Regions from separate parts of the Homo sapiens genome. Here region 2 is linked to region 1. Evidence: fine-mapped expression QTL. Tissue or cell type: whole blood. Region 1 holds a variant in brackets; the other region holds the start of a gene. All regions are shown on one strand. Distances are from middle to middle.

Region 1 (8,098 bases):
ATGCTTGTGAAAAATGACCATCCCTGGGCTCCACACAGACCAAACTCCTGGGAATCCCGATGAGTGGCGTCCAGGAAACAGCATTTTCATCAAGCGCTGTCTCTGAGTAGTTCTTTTGCACAGGTAGCCCAGCCCTAAATCCTAGGCCTCTTCCGGCAGCAGCAGAGCTCCCCAGCAGGCCTGTCATCCAGTCAAGGCGGCCATGGGTCTTGGAGCCCCACTCGATCTCTGTCTACGGCCATTGCTTGTCCTGACCCTGGCTGCCTCCCTGGTGCCTCTGTGTGAGCCTGGAGTCCTGTACTCACTCCCTAAGTGCTGTTCAAAGAGGGAATGAATGGGAACCTGGGAGGTAGGTCAGGATTGTTGACCTCCCCACTGCTCAGCGGGGAAACCGAGGCTCCATGAGTTCTGGTGTTTCTCCTGCAGTTCACCTGGGAGTGGAAGCCAGACAGGGTATTTCCTGGGCTAAGCAGCCATCAGTTGTAAGATGCAGCTTCCTTTTCAGAGACAAAAGTGTGAAAAATGCGCATCTTGGAGTTGATAAAACTCAGGAAAAGTCCTGTCCCACCCTGCAGTTTGCCCGCTGTCTCAAGGCTGTTTTGTGCAGGGTTGTCTTTTTCTGTTAAATTTCTGTCTCGTTAGCCAAAGGAACAAAATCCCCTGATGTCTTCCCAGTGCTTTGTACCTTCTCAAGCATGTCCCCTTCCATGGTCCTGCTTTTGTATTTAAAATTTTTTAGTCTTTTTTTTTTTTTTTTTTAAATGCGAGATGGAATTTTGCTCTTGTTGCCCAGGCTGGAGTGCAATGGTGCTATCTTGGCTCACTGCAACCTCCGCCTCCCAGGTTCAAGCAATTCTCCTGCCTCAGCCTCCTGAGTAGCTGGGATTACGGGCACATGCCACCACACCCGGCTGATTTTTGTATTTTTAGTAGAGAGGGGGTTTCACCATGTCAGGCTGGTTTTGAACTCCTGACCTCAGTTGATCACTGGCGTCCGCCTCCCAAAGTGCTGGGATTACAGGCGTGAGCCACTGCACCCGGCCTGAATTGAGAGACTTCTTTAACTCAGTTTCTTTTTATTTTCAAGATGGAGCCTTGCTCTGTCGCCCAGGCTGGAGTGCAATAGTGCGATCTTGGCTCACTGCAACCTCCACCTCCCAGGTTCAAGCAATTCTCCTGCCTTGGCTTCTCAAGTAGCTGGTGTTACAGGCGTGCACCACCACCCCCAGCTAATTTTTGTACTTTATTTTTTTTTTTTTGAGATGAAGTCTCACTCTGTTGCCTAAGCTGGAGTGCAGTGGTGCGATTTTGGCCCACTGCAACCTCTACCTCCCGGGTTCAAGCAGTTCTCCTGCCTCAGCCTCCCGAGTAGCTGGGACTACAGGCCTGCACCACCATGCCCAGCTAATTTTTGTATTTTTAGTAGAGACAGGTTTCACTATGTTGGCCAGGCTGGTCTCGAACTCCTCACCTTGTGATCTGCCCGCCATGGCCTCCCAAAGTGCTGGAATTACAGGTGTGAGCCACCACTCCCGGCCATACTTTTTTAGTAGAGATGGGGTTTCGCCGCCATGTTGGCCAGGCTAGTCTCGAACTCCTGACCTCAGGTGATCCTCTCGCCTTGGCCTCCCAGAGTGCTGGGATTACAGGCATGAGCCACCACGCCTGAGTGTAACTTGGTTTCTAACAAAAGTCTGCTTAAAAATATGTAGGAGTGGGCCGGGCGTGGTGGCTCACGCCTGTAATCCCAGCACTTTGGGAGGCTGAGGCGGGCAGATCACGAGGTCAGGAGATCGAGACCATCCTGGCTAATGCGGTGAAACCCTGTCTCTACTAAAAATACAAAAAATTAGCTGGACGTAGTGGCTGGCGCCTGTAGTCCCAGCTACTCGGGAGACTGAGGCAGGAGAATGGTGTGAACCCGGGAGGCGGAGCTTGCAGTGAGCCGAGATTGTGCCACTGCACTCCAGCCTGGGTGACAGAGTGAGACTCTGTCTCAAAAAAAAAAAAAAAAAAAAAAAATTTAGGAGTGGGCCGGGTGCGGTGGCTCATGCCTGTAATCCTAGCACTTTGGGAGCCCAAGGTGGGTGGATCACGAGGTCAGGAGTTCAAGACCAGCCTGGGCAACATGGTGAAGCCCCATCTCTACTAAAAATACAAAAATTAGCTGGGCATGGTGGCAGGCACCTGTAATCCTAGCTACTCAGGAGGCTGAGGCAGAGAATTGTTTGAGCCCAGGAGGCGGAGGTTGCAATGAGCCGAGATAGTGCCACTGCACTCCAGCCTGGGTGACAGAACGAGAGGCCATCTCAAAAAAAAAAAAGTGTGTGTGTGTGTACTCTCATATATTAGACATTACATAATACATAATAGAAATATAAAACTATACATTATTATATATAAAAATATATACTCCTATTTATAAAATTCCCTTTTATTTTCATTCCCCTCCCCGTCAGCGACCTCCTGTGCTGGAGTGAATTGCTTGCTTTGTGCGATGGATTTTTGCTTTACAGAAAGGATACTGCTTCTGTTTCTCCTCCTGCTGCTTTTCCTCCCAGTGCTGTGTTTAGAGGGTCGCCTTGTTGGTTACCTGTCCCTCCCTGCTGCTCCTCCCTGCTGTGCGCTCCATGGGCTGCAGGTAGTACAGTTCACTTCAAATCCTCATGAGGGTCAGACCCCCAGGTGTTCACCATCTCCCTGTCACAGAGGCACAGAGGTAAAATGACTTCCCAAGGTCACACAGGGAGCTGCTGCCTGAGCTGGGATTTTCGTCCTCCTGGTTAATTCAGACTCACACTCAGGCTTCCTACTGCTTGGACTGTGGCCCATGTTCTCACCTCCAGCACAAATAGCCGGTGCTGTGCCTTCAGGGACTGGGGAGAGCGATGAGGCAGGAACACACCCATTCCCCTGCAAAGCCAGATCAGTGTCTGAGGATTGCCAGCTGAGCCTGGGGAGGTCAGGCGGGGAGGCATCAGGGTAGGCTTCCTGGAGGAGGGAGCTTCTAGGGCAGGCTTTGGGGCTTGGGGGTAGGGTAAGAAAAACAGGGAATCTAGCATGATCCAAGGTCATTGCCCTGAGCAGCTGGGTGGAAGGAAGTGTTCTTTCTCTCTCTCTCTTTTTTTTTTTTTTTTGAGACTGAGACCGAGTTTAGTTCTTGTTGCCCAGGCTGGAGTGCAGTGGCGCGATCTTGGCTCACCGCAACCTCTGCCTTCGGCGTTCAAGAGATTCTCGTGCCTCAGCTCCCCGAGTAGCTGGGATTACAGGCACGCACCACCGCGCCCGGCTAATTTTGTGTTTTTAGTAGCGTCGGGGTTTCTCCATGTTGGCCAGGCTGGTCTTGAACTCCCGACCTCAGATGATCCGCCCACCTCTGCCTCCCAAAGTGCTGGGATTACAGGCGTGAGCCAACATGCCCGGCAGATTGTGACTCCCTAGTGCCCTCAGGTAAAACCTCTTCAGCTCCGTACAAAGTCTTTCTGATCTGGCCTGGCTTATCTCCTACCCTTTTCATCTTGCCTTTCACTCACCAAGCTGGTTCCCGCCTCCCCACCTCGGCCTGCACTGTACTCTGCCCAGAGTCATCTTCCCCTGCTACAAGCATACCCCAGAGAGCAGGCAGGTTAGGTTCTAGACAGTGCAGTAAAGTGAGTATCACAATAGAGCGAGCCACACACGTTTTTTGATTCTCCAGTGGATACAAAAGTTACGTTTATACGATACTGCAATCTGTTAAGTGTGCAATAACATCATGTCTAAAAAAACCAGTGTACATACCTTAATTAAAAATTGCTTTATTGCTAAAATATGCTGATACTGACATGAAGTGAGCTTGTGACTGGGAAAATGATGCAGATAGACTCACTGGACAAAGGGTTGCCAGAAACCTTCAGTTCGTAAAAAAATGCTGTGTCTTTGAAGTGTAGTAACAAGTTATGCCTGTACCTCCCACTGCCACGCCCTGACTTTTTTTTTTTTCTTTGGAAGATAGGGTCTCATTCTGTCGCCCAGGCTGGAATGCAGTGGTGTGATCATACTCACTCCTGTCTTGACCTCCCAGGCTCAAGCGTTCCTCCAACCTCAGCTACCCGAGTAGTTGGGACCGCAGGCATGTGCCACCATACCTGGCTGATTTTTTAAGTTTTTGCAGAGATGAGGTTTCACTATGTTGCCCAGGCTGGCCTTGAACTCCCGGGCTCAAGTGATCCTCCTGACTCAGTCTCCCACAGTGCTGGGATTACAGACATGAGCCACTGCACCTGGCTTTTTTTTTTTTTTTTTTTTTTTTTGAGACAGAGTCTCACTCTGTTGCCCAGGGTGAAGTGCAGTGACGTGATCTCAGCTCACTGCAACCTCCACCTCCTGGGTTCAAGTAGTTCTCCTGCCTCAGCCTCCTGAGTAGCTGGGATTACAGGCGTGAGCCACCACGCCCAGCTAATTTTTGTATTTTTAGTAGAGATAGGGTTTCACCATGTTGGCCAGGCTGGTCTCGAACTCCTGACCTCCAGTGATTTGCCCTCCTCAGCCTCCCAAAGTGTTGAGATTACAGGTGTGAGCCACCAACCTGGCCTTTTTTTTTTTTTTTTAAGAGACAGGGTCTCACTGGTGCCCAGGCTGGATTGCGGTGGC[G/A]TGATTGTGGTTCACTGTGGCCTCCAACTCTTTTGGGGCCACATCTCGCAGGTCTCTGCTTAAATGCTCCCTCCTCGGGGAAGCCCTCTTTGACTTTCTCGTCCAATTTCCTTCACTTCACTGAGCTTATTTCCATGTTAGGTGACATCCTCAGGGTCTGACAAGGACTGAATAAACCCCTAACTGATACTGAATGATTGAGGGGCCAGGTGACCTTTATACAGATCGTGAGGAGATTGGGTTGGGTTTGGATTGGGTTTTTGAGTTTCTGAGCTGAGTTGGAGGCTTAGGAGAGAAAAGGAAAGAAGGTGAGGGAAGGTTCTGGAAGAGCCTGGAGGAGGTGGTACTGGGTTGGGCTCAGAAGTGAAGTTTGCTCACAGTTTGCGAAGTGGAGAGGGTGTGAAGGCAGAGGTTGTGTGTACAATTGGGAAAGCGTTCAGGAGGCCAGCATGGATGGGCTGAGAGACACAGGAGGAGAGGGAGGCCGTGGGGCTGTGTGGGGGCCGGGGGCACGGGGAGCTGGTAGTTAGGGAGAGCTCTGGCAGCTGCCTTGCTCGACATGGAGAGGCGCCTTTTGTTTCTTGGCCCCTGGGTCTTATGAGCAAATGGTGGTTCTTAATTTGGGGTAAGAGGGAGCTCCAGTCCTTTTAGGAATCTGCTTAGAGGCCACAGACTTTTCCCCAGAGAAACACACACTTGACTCTGTATCCCAAAGTTTGGCAAAGGGGTTCAGGAGGGGTGGGGAGCCAGTTAAGAGCTGTTCACGGATCGTGATGGCAATAACCATGATAATCACAGCCAGCACTTACCTTGGCTCGCCCCAGCTTGGTTCTGGTCTAGGCCACTTACAAGCATCAGCTCCTTCACTCACAGAAGGACTGGAGGAGGTAGGTGCAGGGAGCACCCCGATTTTACACGAGTAAACTGAGGCACAGAGCGATTAAGTGACTTGCCCAGAGCCCGACAGCTGCTAAGTGGCAGAGCCCCCACTCTCTTCCCTGGATGGTCTGCTTCCTGGATGGAGCCTGTTTCTGTTTTGTTTTGTTTTGGAGACAGAGTGAGACTCTGTCTCCCAGGCTGGAGTGCAGTAGTGTGATCTTGGCTTGCTGCAGCCCCGACCTCTCGATCTCCCAGGCTCAAGCAATCTTCCTTCCTCAGCCGCCCAAGTAGCTGGGACTACAGTCATGTGCCACCATGGCCCGCTAATTTTTTGGTTTTTTTTTTTTTTTTTTTAGAGACAGGGTCTTGCCATGTTGCCCAGGGTGGTCTTGAACTCCTGGGCTCAGGTGATCTGCCTGCCTTGGCCTCCCAAAGCAGTGAGATTACAGGCATGAGCTACCACGTCCAGCTGCATCCTGGGTTTTTTTTTTTTTTTTTTTTCTGAGACAGAGTCTCGCTCGGTCACCTAGGCTGGAGTGCAATGGCGTGATCTCAGCTCACTGCAACCTCCACCTCCCGGGTTCAAGCAACTCTCCTGCCTCAGCCTCTGGAGCAGCTGGGATTACAGGCGCCCACCACCACACCCAGCTAATTTTTGTATTTTTAGTAGAGATGGGGTTTCACCATGTCAGTCAGGCTCGTCTTGAACTCCTGTCCTCAAGTGATCCGCCCGTCTTGGCCTCCCAGAGTGCTGGGATTACAGGCGTGAGCCACCGCGCTTGGTCCACCCTGGGTTTTTATTCATCAAGCCTCGCTGCCCCCTTGGTACAGGGGCCAAGACCACAGCTGGGAAGCTCCTTTCCTCTTGCCCCAAGAGCCAGCCTGGGTTGCTGCTGAGCCATTGCAGGCTGAGGCACAGCCTCTCTTTCTCCTTTTACGCTTCCTGATGTCTTCTTTAACATAATCATGGCCACCTCAGCTTCTTTCAGAGAGCAATATGTTCCTGAGCTAGAGACATGGGTGACCAGCTGGAGTCAGGATTTGGGGGGTGTGGTGTAGGTCTAGAGCCAACTGTGGCACTGGAACAAGGCCCCTACCTTGTTCAGCCTCAGTTTCCCTAATCAGCTAGAGAGGCCTACTTCCTCCTTGGAGGTTAAATAGATGACATTCATAGGTCAACGGAAATGCTGCATTTATGGCAATAACTGACCTTGTAGGTGTTTCAAAATTCAGGCCGTTTCAGACCAGAGTGCACACAGGATGATGTGGGACCCCCCAGCAAGGCAGGCAGCTCCCCGTCAGCACATATGCTAGCACTTCTGCGAAGATTTCTGCAGCAAATATATCTGCTGCTGTTGATACTAAGAGGGAGATCTAAGGACAGCCATTGCAGTTCCACTTTGCCCCACAATGAGCCAGGAAAAAAGAAAAGGATGGCTTTAGAGATTTTTGGAGGTTGGAATTGCAGATTAGGGGGCCACAGACCTAAAATGCCTACCGAGTAGGATGAGTGGGTTTTTTGTTTGTTTGTTTTGTTTTGTTTTGTTTTTTGAGACAGAGTCTTGCTCTGTTGCCCAGGCTGGAGTGCAGTGGCACGATCTCGGCTCACTGCAACCTCCACCTCCCGGGTTCAAGCGATTCTTCTGCCTCAGCCTCCCAAGTAGCTGGGATTACAGGCGCATGCCACTATGTCTGGCTAATTTCTGTATTTTTAGTAGAGACGGGATTTCTTCATGTTGGCCAGGCTGGTCTCGAACCCCTGACCTCGTGATCCACTCATGTCAGCTCCTCGAAGTGGTGGGATTACAGGTGTGAGCCACCGCGCCGGGCCAGGGTGTGGGGTTTAATTGGGATGATATGTTGTGGAGTGACTGGCACATGACAACATGACAAGGACTTTGTCATTGCTGGTTGCTATTACTATTGACTGTTGTTGCTATTATTATTACTAACCCCTCTTCGGTCTGTATGGGCTGGTGCAGACACATTGGGCTGTGATGCAGATCCACAGTTTTCTAGACTTGCACACCAGTTCCTGGGGGATCCTGTTACCACGTGAGTTCTGAGTCAGCTGGTGCAGACACTTTGCATTTCTTAACTCCCAGGTGAGGCTGCTGTGGTCAGGGGCCTGCCCTCTGAGTAGTAAGGTGTCCAGTGGTTTTCCAGGTGTTTCTGAGTTACTTTCAAGGATTCTGCAAATGGAGGGGAGGCATTGGATGCCAGGGTCAAAATAAGATTCCTTAGCTCTTAGCTTTGGGGTTTGCCAATTTGCAGCCAGGTCTGTGTTAATCATTACATATGGAAAAAAGTCATATAACACGACGAAAGTCTTTGCACCATCTCCTCTTCTTTCCTTTTCCAAAGGTGACCTCTGTGGGGAGTTTGGGGCTCATGGTCTCTCTCTGTTGTCCAGGCTGGAGTGCAGTGGCATGATCATAGTTCATTGCAGTCTCAACATCCTGGGTTCAGGTGATCCTTCCACCTCAGCCTCCTGAGTAGCTGGGGCTACAGGCACATGCCACCACACCCAGCTAATTTTTGTATTTTTTTTTGTAGACACAGGGTTTTGCCATGTTGCCCAGGCTGG
Region 2 (8,098 bases), 150 kb after region 1:
AGTTGGGGTCATACTGGAGTAGGATGGTCCCTAAACCATCATGACTGGTGTCCTTAAAAAATTCGGAAATTTGAGCCTGGAGAGGTAGCTCATGCCTGTAATCTCTGCTCTTGGGGAGGCCGAGACAGGAACATCACTTAAGCCCAGGAGTTTGAGAGCAGCCTGGACAACATAGCAAGACCTTGTCTCTACAAAATATTTTAAAAAATTGGCTGGGGCCGGGCCCGGTTCTCAAAGCCTGTAATTCCAGCACTTTGGGAGGCCGAGGTGAGCAGATCACTTGAGGTCTGGAGTTGGAGACCAGTGTGGCCAACATGATGAAAGCCTGTCTCTACTAAAAATACAAAAATTAGCTGGGCATGGTGGCGCATGCCTGTAGCTCCAGCTTGGGAGGCTGAGGCAGGAGAATTGCTTGAACCTGGGAGGCAGAGGTTGCAGTGAGCCGAGATTGTGCCACTGCACTCCAGCCTGGGCAACAGAGTGAGACTCCGTCTCAAAAAACAAACAAACAAACAAACAAAAAAATATATATGGTATGTATATATTTATTTTGTATATATATTTTTGTGTATATACATATCTATATATATAATTTGTATTTATAGAGATGGGGTCTCACTATGTTGCCCAGGCAGAGGTTTGAGTTTTTGTTGAGGGCTCTGGGAGTCACAGAAGATAGCTCTATTTGTGGGTCATTCACTTTTTGCCCAGCCCTGTGTTGCTTTACATGCACTTGCTCATTAAATCCTCCCAAGATCAGGGGGATCAGACTGAGGTGGGTGGAGTCGACTTGAACTTTGCTTAGGGTTCTAAGAGGTAAAGACTAGGGGATCTGGGGACAGGGAAATCCCAGATAGAGTTAACCTTTTTTTTTTTTTTTTTTTTTTTTTGATACAGTCTCGCTCTGTCGCCCAGGCTGGAGCGCAGTGGTGCAATCTCAGCTCACTGCCTTCTGTCTCCTGGGTTCAAGTGATTCTCCTGCCTCAGCCTCCCAAGTAGCTGGGATTACAGGCGTGCACCACCACATTGGGATAATTTTTGTATTTTTAGTAGAGACAGGGTTTCACCATGATGGCCAGGCTGGTCTTGAACTCCTGAGCTCAGGTGATCTGCCTGCCTCGGCCTCCCAAAGTGCTGGGATTACAGGTGTGAGCCACCTCATCAGGCTGAGTTTATTGAGTTATCCCCGTGTGCCAGTCAGAGCTCTAGTTCTTCCTACCTGTATAAACTCGCTTACTGCTCACATCAACCATCTAATGGAAGTGCTGTTTTCATGTTGTTTCCTGCCCTTTGTCTCTACCTGCCAGATCACTCCCATGAAGGAAGGGACTTTGTTTATTTATTCATTGCTGTATCCCTGGAAACTGGGACTGCAGGTGGTTATGAAGTACCTATTTGTTAAATGAGTGAACATTTCCTGTAGGCAATTACACCCAACTTCCAAATGGAGAAACAGGCTCAGAGATAAGCCCCTGCACCCTCACTCCTCAACTCAACTGCCTGTTTCTAGCACTTTCCATGACGATCCCCTCTGCACGGAGAGGGTTCATGGGGAGTGACTATTGTTCTGTAATGAATGACCAGGCTGTGCCAGGTCCGGCAGTAGGCCTTTTCCTTTTCCTTTTTTTTTTTTTTTTGAGATGGAGTTGAGTTTTGCTCTTGTCGCCCAAACAGGAGTGCAATGGCGTGATCTTGGCTCACTGCAACCTGTACCTCCTGGGTTCAAGTGATTCTCCTGCCTCAGCCTCCCGAAGAGCTGGGACTACAGGCATGCGCCACCACGCCTGGCTAATTTTCATATTTTTAGTAGCGACGGGGTTTTGCCATGTTGTCCAGGCTGGTCTCGAACTCCTGACTTCAGGTGATCCACCCACCCTGGCCTCCCAAAGTGCTGGGATTTCAGGTGTGACCCACTGTGCCTGGCCAGGCCTTTTCCTTTCTTTCTTTTTTCGAGACAGTGTCTTACTCTGTTGTCCAGGCTGGGGTGGCAGTGGCACAATCACGGCTCACTGCAGCCCCAAACTCCTGGGCTAAAGTGATCCTTCCACCTCAGCCTCCCCAGTAACTGGGAGTACAGGTACATGCCACCACACGGACTAATTTTAAAAGTTTTTGTAGAGATGGGGTCTTGCTATGTTGCCCCAGCTGGTCTCAGACTCTTGGGCTCAAGCAGTCCTCCTGCCTCGGCCTCCCAAAGCATTGGGATTACAGGTATGTGCCACCGTGCCCAGCCGCAGCAGGCCTTTTGTTTTTTTAGAGAGGGTCTTGCTTGGTGGCCTAAGCTGGAGTGCAGTGGTGCAATCACGGCTCACAGCAGCTTCCAAACTCCTGCGCTCAAGCGAGCCTCCTGCCTAAGCCTCTCAAGTAGCCTGGGACTGTAGGCACACACCACCACGCCCGGCTGATTTATTATCTATTTATTTATTTGAGGTGGAGCCTCGCTCTGTCACCCAGGCTGGAGTGCATTGGCCTGATCTTGGCTCACTGCAACCTCCGCCTCCCAGGTTCAAGTAATTCTCCTGCCTCAGCCTTCCGAGTAGCTGGGACTACAGGCACGCGCCACCACGCCCATCTAATTTTTGTATTTTTAATAGAGACGGGGTTCCTCCATGTTGGCCAGGCTGGTCTTGAACTCCTGACCTCAAGTGATCCGCCCGCCTCGGCCTTCCAAAGTGTTGGGATTACAGGCGTGAGCCAACGCACCCAGCCACTAATGTATTATTATTATTATTCTGTAGAGACGCAGTCTGGCTATGTTGCCCAGGCTGGTCTTGAATTCCTGCCTCTGCCTCCCAAAGCGCTGGGGTTACAGGCGTGAGCCACCGCGCCCTGCGGCTGCAGGTCTTTATAAGGCAACTGTGGGCCCTGGACCGCTCCCTGAAAACCTCCCCCTCAACTCCCTGTCTCCTCCCTCACCTGGTCTACCCCGAATCCTTCCCCTCTCGCCCCCTCGCCCTCTCCAGGGGAGGTGAGGGACTCAAGAATCGCGCCCTGCTTCTGTCCCCACCGCGCCGTCCCCAAGCCCACGCAGTGAAAAGACCACCCTTGAGGCTGATTCCGGGTCCAGCTGGGAGCGGCCAGCCGTAAATCACCGCCCCCGTGGGCCGTACCATTCTGGCCGGGGGGACCTGGGAGGGGACGCGCGGAGGGCTTCCCCCGGGGACTGCCTGTATCGAGACTCTCTCCAGCCCAACAGGAGGATGGGAAGGAGACTTGTGTGGGGGCCTCGGGCTGGCGGGTCGCGGGTTCCTTATCCTCCGCCTTGGCGCCTCTCCGCCCACCGCCCACCGCCCCTCCCTGGCATTGGTTGGCGCCAGGGGAAGCCGAGGCTCCATCCTTTCTGCGCAGGTTCCCGCCGCACTCGCGCAGACCTAGCGCGTCCAGGTGGGAGGTTAGTGTGGCCCGGGCGTCCGCTCCTCAGCGGATGTGGCAGCCCCGAGCCATGGCTCTCGCCGTCCGAGTCGTTTATTGGTAAGCCCAGCGGCCAGCGGCCCCCGTCCCCGACCCCCGCCGGGACCCGATTCTCGGAGCCGGGGTCAGGGAGCCCCGGGGAGAGGACCCATGGGAGCCCTTGTATGGGAAAAGGGAGCCCCTGTATGTGGGTGGGGTGGGCGTACGGAGGGGCGAAAAACAGAGGGCGGTCGTCCCTAGGCCCCGTCTTCGACTTGTGACACGCTGGGCATCTCGGGTTATAAAAGGTGGGGCTGAGACGAGTGTGTGTCAATTTCGAACCCCCGACTCCGGGGCTCCGCTGGGGAAGGGGCTGGGGGTCAGCTTTGTAAAGGGACCTAAGGCTCCTCCACCCTAAGGCTTCCCCTCCCCCAATATCCCGAACAGTCGCGGGGTGGGGACAGTGAGAGCCCAGAAGGTTCGAGAATGTCTCAGCCTGTGTTTCAGAAGCACTTGAATTGTTGGCCTCTGCCCAGTGGGTTCCCTTGGCCACGAACCCCACTCCTTTTCTGGCCTCAGTTTTCCGTCTGTGGCAAGAGGGAGGCTCTGTGTCAATACCGAACACGCTTAATTTCTGCAAGTCTCAGGAAGGGTATAATAGGATAGGATATAAATTACGTTCTCTCCACTCCCCAGCACCTAATACTGTGTGGCATGCTGTAGGTATTTAATAAATACGTGTTCAATGAATTTATCCTCCCAGGAATCCCTTAAGAGAGGGGAATTTTAGGCCAGGTGCCGTTGATCACGCCTGTAATCCAAACACTGGGAGGCTGAGGCGGGTGGATCGCTTGAGCCCAAGAGTTCGAGACCAGCCTGGGCAACCCAGGGAGACCCCCCCCTCGTCTCTACAGAAACTTAAAAAGTTAGCCGGGCATGGTGGCGCACTCCTGTAGTCGCAGCTGCTTGGGAGGCTGAGGCAGGAGGATCACTGGAGCCCGGAAGGCGGAAGTTGCAGTGAGCTGAAATCGTGCCACTGCACTCCATCCTGGACAGCAGAGCGAGACTCTGTCTCAAAAAAAAAAAGTAAATTAAAGAGAGGAATTTTAGTTCTATGTTACAGGTGAGAAAACTGAGGCTGGGACTGGGGTGGGGGCAGGTCAGTAGCTTCAAGTCTGGACTGCAGGTGACAGGGGTAACTGGAACCTGGGTTTGTCGGCAGCTTTCCAACGTCTCTGCCTGCTCGACAAAGCAGAGGCAAGAGTGACATTTTGAGACGCCTACCAGGCCTGTACACCAGATTCCAGTCCCGAAATAGCCTGCTGTGGGGGTTGGGTGAGCCTGTATTTCACCCTGGGGACTGGGAAGGTGTTCAGAATCTAGGAGCTGCGGGGCCGGGTGCGGTGGCTCCTGCCTGTAATCTCAGCACTTTGGGAGGCTGGGGCGGGCCGATCCCCTGAGGTTAGGAGTTCGAGACCAGCCTGGCCAACATGGTGAAAATACAAAAATTAGCTGGGCGTGGTGTAAGAATCCAGGAGCCGCAGGGTTTTCCTTGGAGTGCTGCGAGGGCTGTGGGTGAGGGTGGTGGGCACAGGGAGTGGGTGGGGACCTTACGTGTGCTGTTCTTCTCCTAATCCAGTTCTCCTGGTTTTCCCCCGTCCCCGTCTCTCGTATTTGTGGTCTCCTTGTCTCCTCTCTCCCCTTTTTCCCCTCCCCCTTCTCTGTCTCTTGCTTGGTGTTGGTTTTCTGTGTGTCTCTGTGTGTCCCCGCGCCACCCCCTGTGCTGTGTCCCAAAACTCTGCCTGGCTGGTGCCTGTCTTCTCTCTTGAGGGCATCTGTCACCTCTTCTGCTTGGTCATCTGTGTTCCTCTTTATTTCTTCCTGGCCCCATCTTGCTCTCTCCCCACACCGCCTGTGTCTACCCTCCTCTCCCCGATCCCCCACTTCTCCCTCTCTCCCCTGGGCCCCAATGTCTTGGACTCTCCTACCAGTGGCGCTTGAGGCTACAAGTCCAAGGTAAGCAGAGTGGATGCCCGGGGGGCATTCCTGGGAGCTGGGGAGGGGTAGAGTGCATATTGGGAGGGGGCTGACTGGTATGACCCCTGCTGTGACCTCTCACCGCGTTTTCAGTATCTTCAGCTCAAGAAGAAGTTAGAAGATGAGTTCCCCGGCCGCCTGGACATCGTGAGTCTTGGGATGGGGAGAAAGACTTGAGCACAGCCACTGTGTCGGTCCGTTAGGCCTGGATGGCACTGCAGGGGGGTTAGGTCAGCCCTACGCCCTTCACCCATGTTCTCATCCCCCTGGGAAGGGGAGGGTCTCCCCAAGAGGACATCTTAGCCCCTCCAACATCTCCCCTACCCCCTTTCCTCAGTGCGGCGAGGGAACTCCCCAGGCCACCGGGTTCTTTGAAGTGATGGTAGCCGGGAAGTTGATTCACTCTAAGAAGGTATGTCTGTCTGTCCGTCCTGCCTGGTTTTGGGGCTAGCATGGGGTTGGGGCTGAGGTTGGTGTCTCGGTCCCAGCTCACCCCTTCCCTCTTCCTCCCCTCCCTAGAAAGGCGATGGCTACGTGGACACAGAAAGCAAGTTTCTGAAGTTGGTGGCCGCCATCAAAGCCGCCTTGGCTCAGGGCTAATGCGCCCTGAAGGCAGAGGTGAGGGGGCCCACTAGACAGGGACACCACCCTTTGGATCTTCTCCCTGCCCCATGCTCTGACTCCTTGGCCCAGGGTGGAGAGCCTGGGAGATGGGGGGGACATCACGTGTGTCCCCAGAGCGAGCGGGATAAAGTTAGACCCGGTTGGTGGAGGACAACAACTGAGATGGGGTCAGAGGTGTGCAGGGTGACAGCTGAGATGGTGATGGGTCAGAGATATGCAGGATGACAGCTGAGATGGGGTCAAAGGTATGCAGGATGACAGCTGAGATGGTGATGGGTCAGAGGTGTGCAGGATGACAGCTGAGATGGTGATGGGTCAAAGGTATGCAGGATGACGGCTGAGATGGTGATGGGTCAGAGGTGTGCAGGATGACGGCTGAGATGCTGATGAGTCAGAGGTGTGCAGGATGATGGCTGAGATGGTGATGGGTCAGAGGTGTGCAGGATGACGGCTGAGATGGTGATGGGTCAGAGATGTGCAGGATGACAGCTGAGATGGGGTCAGAGGTGTGCAGGATGACAGCTGAGATAGGGTCAGAGGTATGCAGGATGACAGCTGAGATGGGGTATGCAAGATGACAGCTGAGTTGGTGGTGGGGTCAGAGGGCTGCCCTAAAACAGCTCTCCTGGTTTGGGAATGAAAAGTGCTAGCAACCCAACGGTTCAGAATCCGGAACTCTAGGTCTTTGTCCCATTGCCAAGAAACAGTTCCCAACCCAGCAGGTCATGTGACAGCGTCCGGCCAAGTTCCCAGCATGTTTTGAGACAGAATTTCCTTGCTCCACAATTTCGAGTAGGTCACTAATTATCACCGGGCTCTGAACCTGAGAATTAGTTCTAGGAATATTCCAGACCTGATCCAGCTCCAGAAACTTACCCACTTTGGAACTGAACATGAGTCCAAGAATGCTCTAGAAACAAATGCTAACTCTAGAATGGATTGTCTGCTCCAAAAAAACCCTAGAGCTGACTCCCAGTTCTCCCCATAGAGCCGAGAATGAAATACACCACCAGCTCCCAACACACTGTAAACCTGAGCCCCCCTTCCCAACCCAGCAATTGAAAAATGTGAACCAGCTCCTAAGCACTAGAATTGACCACTAGTTCCTGGAGTTGGCTACTGGTTCCTTATCACTGTTTTTCTTTCTTTCTTTCTTTTTTTTTTGAGATGGAGTCTTGCTCTGTCTCCCGGGCTGGAGTGCAGTGGCGCGATCTCGGCTCACTGCAGCCTCTGCCTCCCGAGTTCAAGCAATTCTCCTGTGTCAGCCTCCCAAGTAGCTGGGATTACAGGCACATGCCACTATGCCCGGCTAATTTTTGTATTTTTAGTAGGTCTGATCCTGTTGGCCAGGCTGGTCTTCAGGTGATCCACCTGCCTTGGCCTTCCAAAGTGTTGGGATTACAGGCGTGAGCCACCGTGCTTGGCCTCCTTAAGCACTCTGAACCAAGTATTGTTTCCAGCCTAATACATTGTGGAACAAGTGGCAATTTCTATATGAACCTCAGGAACAAAGAACTACTTTCCAGCACCTTCTGAGTCTGATTTTCCAGTTTGTAAGCCAGTATGGTCCAGATAAGCGTGAAACCCAACCCATTCTAGAACAGTTACTAGCCCTTTTTCTGGTCTCTGGCACTGCAGGGCCTGGAGCATAGTTTATTTTTTGAGGTGGAGTCTCGCTCTGTCGCCCAGGCTGGAGTACAGTAGTGTGATCTCGGCTCACTGCAACATCTGCCTCCTGGGTTCAAGGGATTCTTGTGTCTCAGCCTCGTGAGTAGCTGGAATTACAGATGTCTGCCACCATGCTGGGCAAATTTTTTTTTTTTTTTCTAAGACGGAGTCTCTGTCGCCCAGGCTGGAGTGCAGTGGCGTGATCTCGGCTCACTGCAAGCTCCGCCTCCCGGGTTCACGCCATTCTCCTGCCTCAGCCTCCCAAGTAGCTGGGACTACAAGCGCCTGCCACCACGCCTGGCTAATTTTTTGTATTTTTTAGTAGAGACGGGGTTTCACCGTGTTAGCCAGGCTGGTTTTGAACTCTTGACCTCAGGTG

What was found. PIP is the estimated chance that this variant, and not a neighbour inherited with it, causes the effect.
Region 2: SELENOW starts here. The variant in region 1 is fine-mapped to the expression of SELENOW in whole blood (INTERVAL, PIP above 0.99).

The regions. Positions count from the first base shown.
Region 1 is chr19:47,620,726-47,628,823 of GRCh38, forward strand. The region is part of intron 1 of BICRA (BRD4 interacting chromatin remodeling complex associated protein); the gene reads left to right. Among named protein-coding and RNA genes, the nearest start is that of BICRA, 16 kb to the left of the region's middle. RefSeq lists enhancers at 1-407, 6,167-6,741. The variant G/A (reference allele first, on the strand shown) is at 4,633.
Region 2 is chr19:47,775,344-47,783,441 of GRCh38, forward strand. It overlaps SELENOW (selenoprotein W), which reads left to right and starts at 3,360. Exons shown (of 6, transcript NM_003009.4): 1 at 3,360-3,471; 2 at 5,382-5,406; 3 at 5,521-5,574; 4 at 5,765-5,839; 5 at 5,947-6,045. The coding sequence starts at 3,443. The coding sequence ends at 6,027. RefSeq lists silencers at 3,248-3,507, 3,518-3,657 and an enhancer at 5,725-6,310.